Regions from separate parts of the Homo sapiens genome. Here region 1 is linked to region 2. The links come from fine-mapping of genetic effects on gene expression. A gene starts in region 2. The other region holds a variant in brackets. All regions are shown on one strand. Distances are from middle to middle. Region 1 overlaps PIP4K2C (phosphatidylinositol-5-phosphate 4-kinase type 2 gamma). Region 2 holds the start of AVIL (advillin).

Region 1 (5,375 bases), 220 kb after region 2:
CTGTCTTCGTTGTCCACACTGACTCGGTACATCCCCAGGAACTGGGGCAGAAGCGTGTTGCCATGGCACTTCACAATGTACTACAGTGAAAGAGGGGGAAGGAATGGGGAGAGGCTGAGTAGCAGATACACAAACAGCCCAGGGAAGTTCAAACACTGCCATTCCAGGGTAGAGCAGAGGACTTCAAGTAGAGAGATTACAAAGTCAAAAGTGGTGGAAGCTTCCCCAAAACACTCCAGGTTATCCATGCCGTTTCTGAATCCCCCTTTCCTCTGATTCCTTCCATTTGTACATCTCTTAATTTTTAAGTGTCATCTCTCAATTCACCTTTATCATTCTTTGAGATGAGGAAGGTTAAGTGTTATTATCCTTATTTTAGACCCTTTCTATATGCAAGTGGCACAGAACCAGGATTACAACTTATATCTTATCAATGAAATCATTTTATCTAGAGCAGTGTTTCTTCATAGGCTAGATTCCCATAATTTAAAATGTCTGCATTGGGTTGGGCTGTGCTGTGTCATTCTGTCACTGTAATATAAATACAGATTTTTATACCTAAAAAAAAAAAAAAGTCTGCATGATGGCCTACAATTTGGATTTTTTTTTTTTTTTTTTTTGGAGATGGAGTCTCACTCTGTTGCCCAGGCTGAAGTGCAGTGGCACAATCTAGGCTCACTGTAACCCCCGCCTCCTCCCAGGTTCAAGCAATTCTCCTGCCTCAGCCTCCCGAGTAGCTGGGAGTACAGGCGCACACCACCACGCTCAGCTAATTTTTTGTATTTTAGTAGAAGCGGGGTTTCACTGTGTTACCCAGGCTGGTCTCGAACTCCTGAACTCAGGCAATCTGCCCACCTCGGCCTCCCAAAGTGCTAGGATTACAAGCGTGAGCCACTGCACCCGGCCTACAATTTGGATTCTTTTTTAAAAATTCTCCTGTTAAGCCAGGCTCACACCTGTAATCCCAGCTACTTGGGAGGTTGAGGCAGGAGGATCGCTTGAGCCCAGGAGTTTGAGACCAGCCCGGGGAACACAGTGAGATCCTGTCTCTAAAAAACAAAAATTACTCCTTCAGTGCTTACCATCTCTCTTTCTGTGTTGCTGCCTCTTTCTCTTCACAGCCAACCTTCTCAGGAAAGTAATCAGCAAGAAATCCATTTCCTGTCTCTCATTCACACGTTGAATCACTGAAATCAGGTTTATACCTCATTTCTCCTCTGAAATCTCCCCCATATCCCTCAGTTGTCAAATCTAGTAAGTATTCTAGTCATTGTCATATTTCAGCTTTGTGGCACTTGATCCTATTGACCAGTCTCTCCTTAAAAGTCTCCTCATCCTCAGCTCTTATTATACCACCCTCCTGATTCCCCTCCTCTCTGTCGTCGAATCCCGTATGGAATGTAGCATGGCATAAATAATTAAAAGTGTCCATCTACTCTTAGTTTCCTTTATGGGCTCATTTCTTCACTTGTTCCTTTAGGTTCTGTCCTCAACCTTCTTTTCATTTCACTGCACACAACCTCCCTACAATAATCGTATCTATAGCCATGGTTTTAATGATCACTTACTCACATATAATTCTCAAACCTATACTCCCAGTCTAATCCTCTTTCCTGAATTCTGTACACATACCCCAACCACTTACTGGACATCCTCATCTGGATGAATTGCAGAAACCTCAAATTCAGTATGTCCAAATCAGAACTTTCTTCCTCCAAAAACCTGTTCCTCTGTTTCTAATTTCTGGTGAATAGGCACCCAGTTATCCCTAACCAGGAACTTGGAGGCCCCTGTGTCTTAACTCTCAGTTCTCCCATAGGTCTTCCTTTCTATCCCCACCACCATCGCTCCCCCAGGCCTTCATTGTTTCTACCCTGGACTATTAAAATTACCTCCTAACTGGTATCCACCCTTCCAGTGTTCCCTCCCACCAATCCATTCTCTAAAACGCTGTCACATTTTCTAAATATTTCTAAATAACAAATATATCACGCCCCTTGCAAAACCACCTTCAGGATAAAGTCCAAACTTCTTTGTGGGGCTTATAAGCCTCTTTACAATCTGGCTCCTGCCTATTTCCACAGTACTACATCCCATCCAAATGGAATTTCTTGCTGTTTTCTAACACCAAGTTCTCTCATGGCTCTGTGCCTTACAAGTGCTGTTTTCCTTTGCCTAGAATGCTCTTCCACCCTGTCCAATGGTTAACCTCTACTAGTCCTTCAAGGATCAACTCTTACAGTATCTCCTCTAAAAAACTCTCTTTAGCCTCCCAGGTGCATTTCCTTCCCCAGGTGAGTTCGGATGCTCTTCACTAGCTTCAGAATATTCTGTACAGACTTCTACTATTGTATATATCTTGCGGTGTGCTAATACTGGGTCACTGGTCACTGCCATCAGACCAAGGGATCTGTAAGGGCCACAGATGTTTCATTTACCTCCTACTCTACTGCCTAACATAGGGCCTAATAAGAGGTATTCAATATTTGTTGCATAAACCAAAGACTCCTTTTGGACTCTGATGTATTCCTTGCTCACTGATTTTGGTGAAATTTTTCTTCAGTAGAGATGTTCAAGAAGAGTGTTTTTACTGCCAAAACATTCCATAAACTCCACATTCCAAGTAAATCTTTTTTTTTTT[A/TTA]ATCTTTTTTTTTTTTTTTAGGCGGAGTTTTGCTCTTGTTGCCCAGGCTGAAGTGCAAATGCACGATCTCGGCTCACTACAACCTCCGCTTCCCGGGTTCAAGTGATTCTCCTGCGTTAGCCTCCTGAGCAGCTGGGATTACAGGCATGAGCCATCATGCCCAGCTAATTTTGTACTTTTAGTAGAGACGGGGTTTCTCCATGTTGGTCAGACTGGTCTCGAACTCCCGACCTCAGGTGATCCTCCCGCCTCAGCCTCCCAAAGTGCTGGGACTACAGGTGTGAGCCACTGCCCCCAGCCTGTAAATCTTATCAGACAGAATAGCTTCCCTCATCCCATTTAGGGCTGGATATGATTATGGATTCTCTCTTCCAATGAGTTTTCTCCCCAGTTGGCATCTATTACTGACAATAGCTGAGCTATATGTGAGTAGGGAGGAGAGGGAAAGAATGGGGCTAGAGAGAGGCCTGACCTGGTGATAGTTGGAGAGGTTGCTATGCATGTCAGCAATGTCCTCACTGGATACTTCTTTGATGACCAGAGTCCGATCGTAGGAGATAAGGAAGCGACCATCACTGCCTTCACTTTCGCTGGGGGGGTTTCGGGTAAGGGACACCTGGGGACACAGAATAGGCCAGAGCTCTTTTCCTCCCTCTTTATATGCAGAAACAAGTCATAGGAAAATGGTCAGCTGAAAGTGGATGAATCCCTGGGGTAGGAGATTCAGCACAGTTCCTCATCAGGTGTCCATATGTGGACTGAAGGAAACTGAATGCAAAATTCTTTTTTTTTTTTTTTTTTGACAAGGAGTCTCGCTCTGTCACCCAGGCTGGAGTGTAGTGGTACGATCTCAGCTCATTGCAACCTTCGCCTCCCAAGTTCAGGTGATTCTCCTGCCTCAGCCTCCCAAGTAGCGGGGACTAGACGTGCGCCACCACACCTGGCTAATTTTCATATCTTTAGTAGAGACAGGGTTTTGCCATGTTGGCCAGGATGGTCTCGAACTCCTGACCTCAGGTGATCTGCCCGCCTCGGCCTCCCAAAGTGTTGGGATTACAGGCGTGAGCCACAGCGCCTGGCCAAAATTCTTAATGTATCTACATCTTTTCCCCCAAGGACAAGGTTTATAATTTTCATTAAATTTTTGAAAATGCTGCAATCACAAAAAGGTAAAGAATTATATTTGCCAAGACTCTCATTTCTCCAAATATGGCTGTCCCAAATAGTACTCCTCAGTTGCTGGGGAGAAAGGGCTACCCTCACCCCTTAATGGACTCTCACCAAGTAATCTTGGTCATCAATGCCAAATCGATCACGGAGGTTCCTGAAGACCTGGGGACAATACTCCTTGAACTTGAAATGACTGGGCAGATTTTCCCTGAAATTCAGGTTTTCAAAGTAAGAAAACAAACAATATTACATTTACATACACTTGGTAGTTTATAAAGTACCTTCAGACATATTACCTCATTTGATTCTCATAAAACCCTGTGAGGTCCTTTTTTTTTAATTTTTATTTGTTATTATTATTTTTTGAGACAGAGTCTCACTCTGTTGCCAGGTTGGACTGCAGTGGTGCAATCTCGGCTCACCACAACCTCCATCCCCCGGGTTCAAGCAATTCTCCTGCCTCAGCCTCCCAAGTAGCTGGGACTACAGGCATGCGCCACCATGCCTGGCTAATTTTTTGTATTTTTAGTAGAGATAGGGTTTTGCCATGTTTGCAGGCTGGTCTCGAACTCCTGACCTCAAGTGATCCACCCGCCTTGGCCTCCCAAACTGCTGGGATTACAGGCATGAGCCACCACGCCTGGCCCTTGTGAGGTCCTATAAAAACATATTATTTCCATTTTATAGAAGAGGAGACTGTCTCAGAGTGATTCAGTGACCTGCCTAAGTAACATGGTTGGTAAGTGGTATAGTAGAGCCAGGATCTACTACCCATCCAAACAGCAGCATTTCCCAAATCTCAAGCAAGTCAGAAGCATTCTAAAGTCAGCAACAGACACCACTGTTTTGAATGGCATCTTCTTTTCCTAGGAGGGCTTAGTAGAGAATTCAAGTTTTTCTTTCAAGGAGTCCCTGTCAGAAGCTAATGGTTCTCATGGCATCTCCAAGGTCACAAGCAGAAAAAGAGAGAAAGAGCAGGTAATGGTATCTGTACATATTTACTCTATGGAATTGCCAGGCTAGAGGAGAGATAACACTGATTCATATAAGGATATAGGGAACACCAGAAATTATTCTCATGGTTTCCTTGCACAAAACTAATTTCTGCATTTGGGAAGGATGTTAAATTTTCAACTCACTGAAACTTTTAAAATTATTTATTACTCCTTTCTGGGAAGGTTGACATGAGAATGGCAAGGATCATCACTTACCTGTGGAAAAGGTGATTGTTGACCTTGATCTTGGAGCTGGCCTTAAAGTCATCTGGCAGCAGCATCACCGGGGGAGGCACCTGGCTGAGCTCATTGATCTGATAAGCCAAACCATGAATAGGGAAGCCATGAAGAAGGGTGTGGAGAGCTACCCATACACTGTGTCTGGGCAGCAGTCATGCAAGGGCCACTCAGACCTCATTCCTTTAAAAACACTGGCTATGCATATGCTTGACAGAAGTGAGAGAATGTGTCTAACCCTTCTGCTGCCCAAGAAGGACTACAGTAAGCAACCCTCACACACAGCCCCCAACACGCCCACCCCCATGGAACTTCATGCTCACAACAGTCAT
Region 2 (5,375 bases):
GGCCTCTCTTCCAAGCCCCACCCTAAGGGTTAGCCCTTGGCCAAATCTTTTGCCGTCTAGGCCCAGCCAGGCTTTTCTGACTAAATAAGCAATAAGAGGCTCTAAGCTGACTGAGTTGCAAGGACCCTTTCCGCCCTCCCTTGGATCTCCATGTTTTTCCAGATGGCGGAAGAGCATGTGCCACCCCCTTTCCTAACAGACTTGTCCAAGTGCTTGGCGTGGGACCCATGACCAAAGCCCAGGATGGCTTGGTGGGAGTGTCCCTGCTGCATCTGCATGAAGCCCCTGCTTTTTAGGCCTCACTCCCATCAGAACCCTGCCTGCCCACCTGCAACTCCCCCCCAACAATGCCATTCCCACTTGCCCCAGAGAAGCTACTCGGCCAAACCTAGCCAGGGTCTGTTCTTGTGGACCAGAGCCAGCCTAGTCATTATTTGCTGTCGGGTTTCCAGTTTCACCGTGTGTTAGGGTGAGGGATGATTGTAAAATTTGCTCCTCAAAGGAATCAGGCCAGACTCAATTTTGGAGGGCAAGACAGGGAGGAGGCCGCTTCATCCCAGACTCTCTTCTAGGGCTTCCCACCATCAGCCCCTCCCACTTGAGACTGGTCTTTGGGAGGCAATAGGCCACCATGCCTGGTCAGCACCAATTCAAGCCATGCCAGGAATCTGCCTACCTGCCAGGTTCAGTTCTTTTAAGGTGCCTCTTCAGGGACACAGTGTGTCTCTCTGATTGGGCTTCTAAATCAAAAGCCTGATGTTCGTGTCCCTCTCATAGGGGGAGCTTTGGACACAGGACCAGTTTGGAAAAGGGTCAGGTAAGGGTTTCCACTCTGCACATTGTAGAGGGAACACTCTGTAGGCCCATGGGTCCCTTACTAGAGAGGTTGAGTGAATTTGCCTTCAGTTAACATGGGACCTTCTGTTTAGCTTCCTCTTGCTTCCCAAAGATTTTAAGCATTTTGTAAATGTATAAACTCACCTCTGGTAACAGTGGCCCAGACGCTGCTTTGTGCTAAAAGCATGGGAAATGTAAAGGCAGTCTTTCTCTGGGAAATGGATGCTATTCTATTCTGCTGCCCCTACCTGTTCCTGAGGCCTCATTTAGAAAGAAAATCCCCTCAGAAGGCTGTCTGGCACCCAGTGTCCTAGCCAGGCCAAGTATATGAGAAAGGTAAGTCCATTTTCCCCTTCAGGTCCTCAGTGGATTACTTAACCACTGCTGTCCCTCGGTCCCTTTTTCCTAAACGGGTTTAGTTCTGTCTTTTTTCTCCTTTTTTCTAAATGCTGGTAAATATTTACATTCAGCCAGGGAAGAGGAGGCCAGAGGTCGGGCCAGCTGCCCCATTCTTTTAACGTTGTAGGGCCTGCCCATGGAGCGGACCCTCCTCTTTGGGCCTCGTGAGCTTTTTTGCTTATCATGTTCCATTTCGTGCCGCTTTCCCCCTTCAAGATGCCATTTGGAGGGTAGGGGATCTGCTTCCCACTGTGACTGGGCTATGGGATTCTGACTACCTTGCTTACAGATTCATGGTTTGATAAATTTGTTGTATTCAAAAACTTGAAATGCAGGACGCCATTAAGTGTCTGTTTATATTTTTGGAATATTTGTATTACTTACAATTAATTAATAAAAGTGGGTTTAAAAAACCTTTCCAGGAATGTGAGCTGCCACCAACCTTCATTGGCCCTTAAGTGTTCACTGGGCCCATGGCAAGCACCGCCTTTCTTCTCGCAACCCCTTCCATCATGAAGCAGCTGCACCCCCGGGCTGAGTGGGGTGTTGCACCCACCGGGAGGCCAGCTGCAGATGCCACACAGGGCTTCCGCTCAAGGTTACACAAGTTCTGCTGTGATCAACCCCATTGCAGTCAGGTGCTTAGCACGTGTATATGCTTGATGTCCTATTGACTTCTGGGCATGAACCAGAAGCCCTAAGGGAATGGATTATTATTTTTTTTTTTTTTTTTGAAATGGAGTCTTGCTCTGTTGCCCAGGCTAGAGGCAGTGGCATGATCTCAGCTCACTGCAACCTCCACCTCCCAGGTTCAAGCGATTCTCCTGCCTCAGTCTCCTGAGTAGCTGGGATTACAGGCGCCTGCCAGCACGCCCGGCTCATTTTTGTATTTTTAGTAGAGATGGGGTTTCACCATCTTGGCCAGGCTGTTTTCAAACTCCTCACATTGTGATCCACCCACCTCAGCCTCCCAAAGTGCTGGGATTACAGGCGTGAGCCACCACCACACCCAGCCCTGGGAATGGAGTCTTGATTCTTCTCTGCCCCTCACTGATTCTTCCAAACTGGAAACCCTGAAGCTGAGAGCCCAGCATGGTTCCTGGCAAACAGCAGGCACTCAAATATTGATTGGTTTACTGTATGACTAGTAGAGACCCCAACGAGCAAAACTGTGGCCTAATAAAATTCTGGCTCCTCTCCCAGACTTCCCCTCCCTTTGAGAAATGCCAGAAGCTTCTTAGGGAGGCTCTTGCCAACCTAGACATCACAGGCACTCATGGGGCAGCTCCAGCCTCTTCCTCCTGTCATCACCATAATGCATCCATATCTACAATATGGCAAATTTCATATCCTTCCAACCTCTTTCCTGCATTATTGATGGGCTGTGTGCACTTTTTAAAAAATCAATTAGATCAGGGCGTGGAGCTGGAGTTCAAAGAAGCCTTTAAAAGTCTGCTCTTCTGTTTTGCTGTTTTGAATAGGCACAGATAAAGCTTTCCCTCTGGTTTGAATAAGCCAAGCTCAGTGCTAGGTTGGCTCTGATTGGCCAGGACTAGGAAAATGCGGTTAAGATGCAAACACAAGCAAATATAACCCAGTATCTCTGCGGCCATTACTAAGCTAAGGCAGCAGGACCTGGAGCCTCCTGCTTTGGAGTGGTTCTTCAATACTGCTGCTGCTTACGCGCCGGGAAACTGGGAAGGCTGGTGAGCGAGAAGGCAAGGTAAGGTCTCTGATTTACGGGGGCATGCCAGTTAATCCTCCTGAATGAGGAAGAAATGAAAGGAAGAGGAGCTTGAGAGTCCCTTGGCTTTGTCTTCTGAGATGAGGCTTTTAAAATGAACCAGGAGTCTGGCTGGCCAGTTTTGCAAACTTCTTGTTCAGAAGAACCCCTTAGAGGCAGCTGAACATATAGGGCACATTTTCAAAAGCTGGGAAAGACAGACCCCTTTCACCTATCCCTAGAGAAAGATGGTATGGAGCAAGGCAGGAGGAGTTAAAACCAGCTTCCTGGCCCAGAGAGGTGGCTTACACCTGTAATCCCAACACTTTGGGAAGCCAGGGCATGAGGATTGTTTGAGCCCAGGAGTTTGTAACTTGTGACCATCCTGGGCAACATAGTGAGACCCTGTCTCTACAAAAAAAAAAAAAAAAAAAAAAAAAAAAAAAGCCAAGCATGGTGGTGCACACCTGTGGTCTCAGCTTCTCAGGAGGCTGAGGCAGAAGGATCACTTGAGCCCAGGAGGTGGCGGTTGCAGTGAGCCGTGATTGTACCACTGCACTCCAGCCTGGGTGACAGAGCAAGACCCTGTCTCAAAAACAACAACAACAAAAAACAGCTTCCTCTGCTCAGGGTCCGTCCAAAAGGGCATCTCTGAGAATTACAGGCCACTGGCTTTTAACCTGACATTTCAAAACTGTGCCCCACACCCAAGGGGTTTCTGCAGTCCTCTCAAAGGATACTGAATTAGGATTTAGGGAGAAGGAGAGACCCAGCTTTGGGAGATTTGATGTCAGAACTGTGTTTTCTGTGTGTTCCAGTGTGACAGGAAGTCCCTTCCTGGAGCTTATCCTCTCGCATTCGGGGTGCCTGGCCCAGGGAGCTCCTTGATTCCTAAATTCCTGCTGGGAAACGGGACAGGTTTCAGCCTCTGAGGCTCACAGTCCTAATTGCTGCCGGCTGGTTTGGCTTTTACCAGGGTGACAGTTCTCTGTCTCCAAGGAATGAATTCAGTGGCCCTTGTCCCCTTCCCCTAGTTGGCTCATGGCTTTTGCCTTTAATGACTGCTACGTAGGGTCTGAAGAAAACCCAAACACCATATTTCCTGGCAATTCTGAGCAGCACAGGGTGGGGCAGCACAAGTTATCAAATTAAATTCTCAAACACTGGCTGCTCCGCACCATTGCCTTGCTTTAGTCCTGCTACAGCAGTAGACAAAGCGAGTCTGCTTTGAGCTTTATGGTTTTTTGCCAAAGTCCATACTAGATGGCGCATGCTCTCCAAACTTGGCTTTGTCCATCAAGGTTCAAGAAAACAATGGTCAGACATGTTCCTCTTAACAAACAGTATGTCCCCAAACAGCAAAAATGCATACAGTCCTTTCTGGGTGAATTTTTAAATCTTACATAAATCCATCAACCCCATCCTTTTTCCTTTGCCTCTTGGGAGAAATTAATCTAGCTTTACATTAATTATGCATGTTATCAGATTTCAAGCTCCTTGAGAGCAGGTATTTTAATTCTATAAAGCCTCTACGTGGCCTTGGACATGGGTAGGTGCTTAATTACCCAAGATGCTCCTTGAATACAGATGGTACACGACCTACACAGACTTAGATCTTTACCACTTCCCCCCTCTCCCCACCCTGACTTGCTCAATCCTGAAGGAACTGGAGACGTCTAAGTGTCTGAGGTTCACGCTTCCACACAGAAGCTTGGGTCTGTGTGGGAGGGAAAAAGGAAGCCATCTGTCCGCAGGCCAGACCAGGCCACACCCTGCTAGCACCCAGAACCCTTTGTCCCAGGCCCAGCCCTGCCATTTTACTTTCCTTGCATCTGGAAAGCACAGGGAATATAGTAGTGACAAAAGAAGGAAGGGTTGTTTGAGTTTAAGAATAGTTTACTCTAAAAAAAAAAAAAAAAAAAAAAAAAGGACAAAAGCCAAAGAGAAGGTCAAAGTTGACTGTGGAGAAGGCCTTGCAAGCAGGGAACTTGGGAAGAATTGGAATGAGAGTGAGAGAAGGCAACTGAGTTTGGAAATATTTTTTCTGACTAGCTTTTCTTTCCAAATGCCACTGAACTTAGATTGGTTTAGGAAGGGTTGTAGTACATCAAAGTGGCTAGAAGCACAGGTTTGGGGATCAGATAAGGATTTCATTCTAGAGTGTGATCTTGTACAAGTTATTCAGCCTTTGCAAACCTCAGATTCACACAATGTAAGATGAAGAAACTCACCTTCTGAAAATTAGAGATAACATATGCAAAGTGAATCAATACAGGGCTTAACATATTTATCACCCCTTTGGTAAATAACCATGACGATTACCAGAGCTCTTAAGGGCAATGGCAGGTGGGAAGCAGAACTCATGGGTGGTAATCCCCAGGCCAGCCAGGCTCACCATGTGCACTTGGACAAGTCC

What was found. PIP is the estimated chance that this variant, and not a neighbour inherited with it, causes the effect.
Region 1: its variant is fine-mapped to the expression of AVIL in whole blood (INTERVAL, PIP above 0.99).

What each region holds. Positions count from the first base shown.
Region 1 is chr12:57,593,770-57,599,144 of GRCh38, reverse strand. PIP4K2C (phosphatidylinositol-5-phosphate 4-kinase type 2 gamma) reads right to left here. Exons shown (of 10, transcript NM_024779.5): 2 at 5,023-5,120; 3 at 3,923-4,019; 4 at 3,114-3,257; 5 at 1-80. Among named protein-coding and RNA genes, the nearest start is that of PIP4K2C, 5.3 kb to the right of the region's middle. The variant A/TTA (reference allele first, on the strand shown) is at 2,642.
Region 2 is chr12:57,816,213-57,821,587 of GRCh38, reverse strand. AVIL (advillin) reads left to right here and starts at 2,854. Exons shown (of 20, transcript NM_006576.4): 1 at 2,854-2,959. It overlaps CTDSP2 (CTD small phosphatase 2), which reads left to right. Exons shown (of 8, transcript NM_005730.4): 8 at 1-1,661.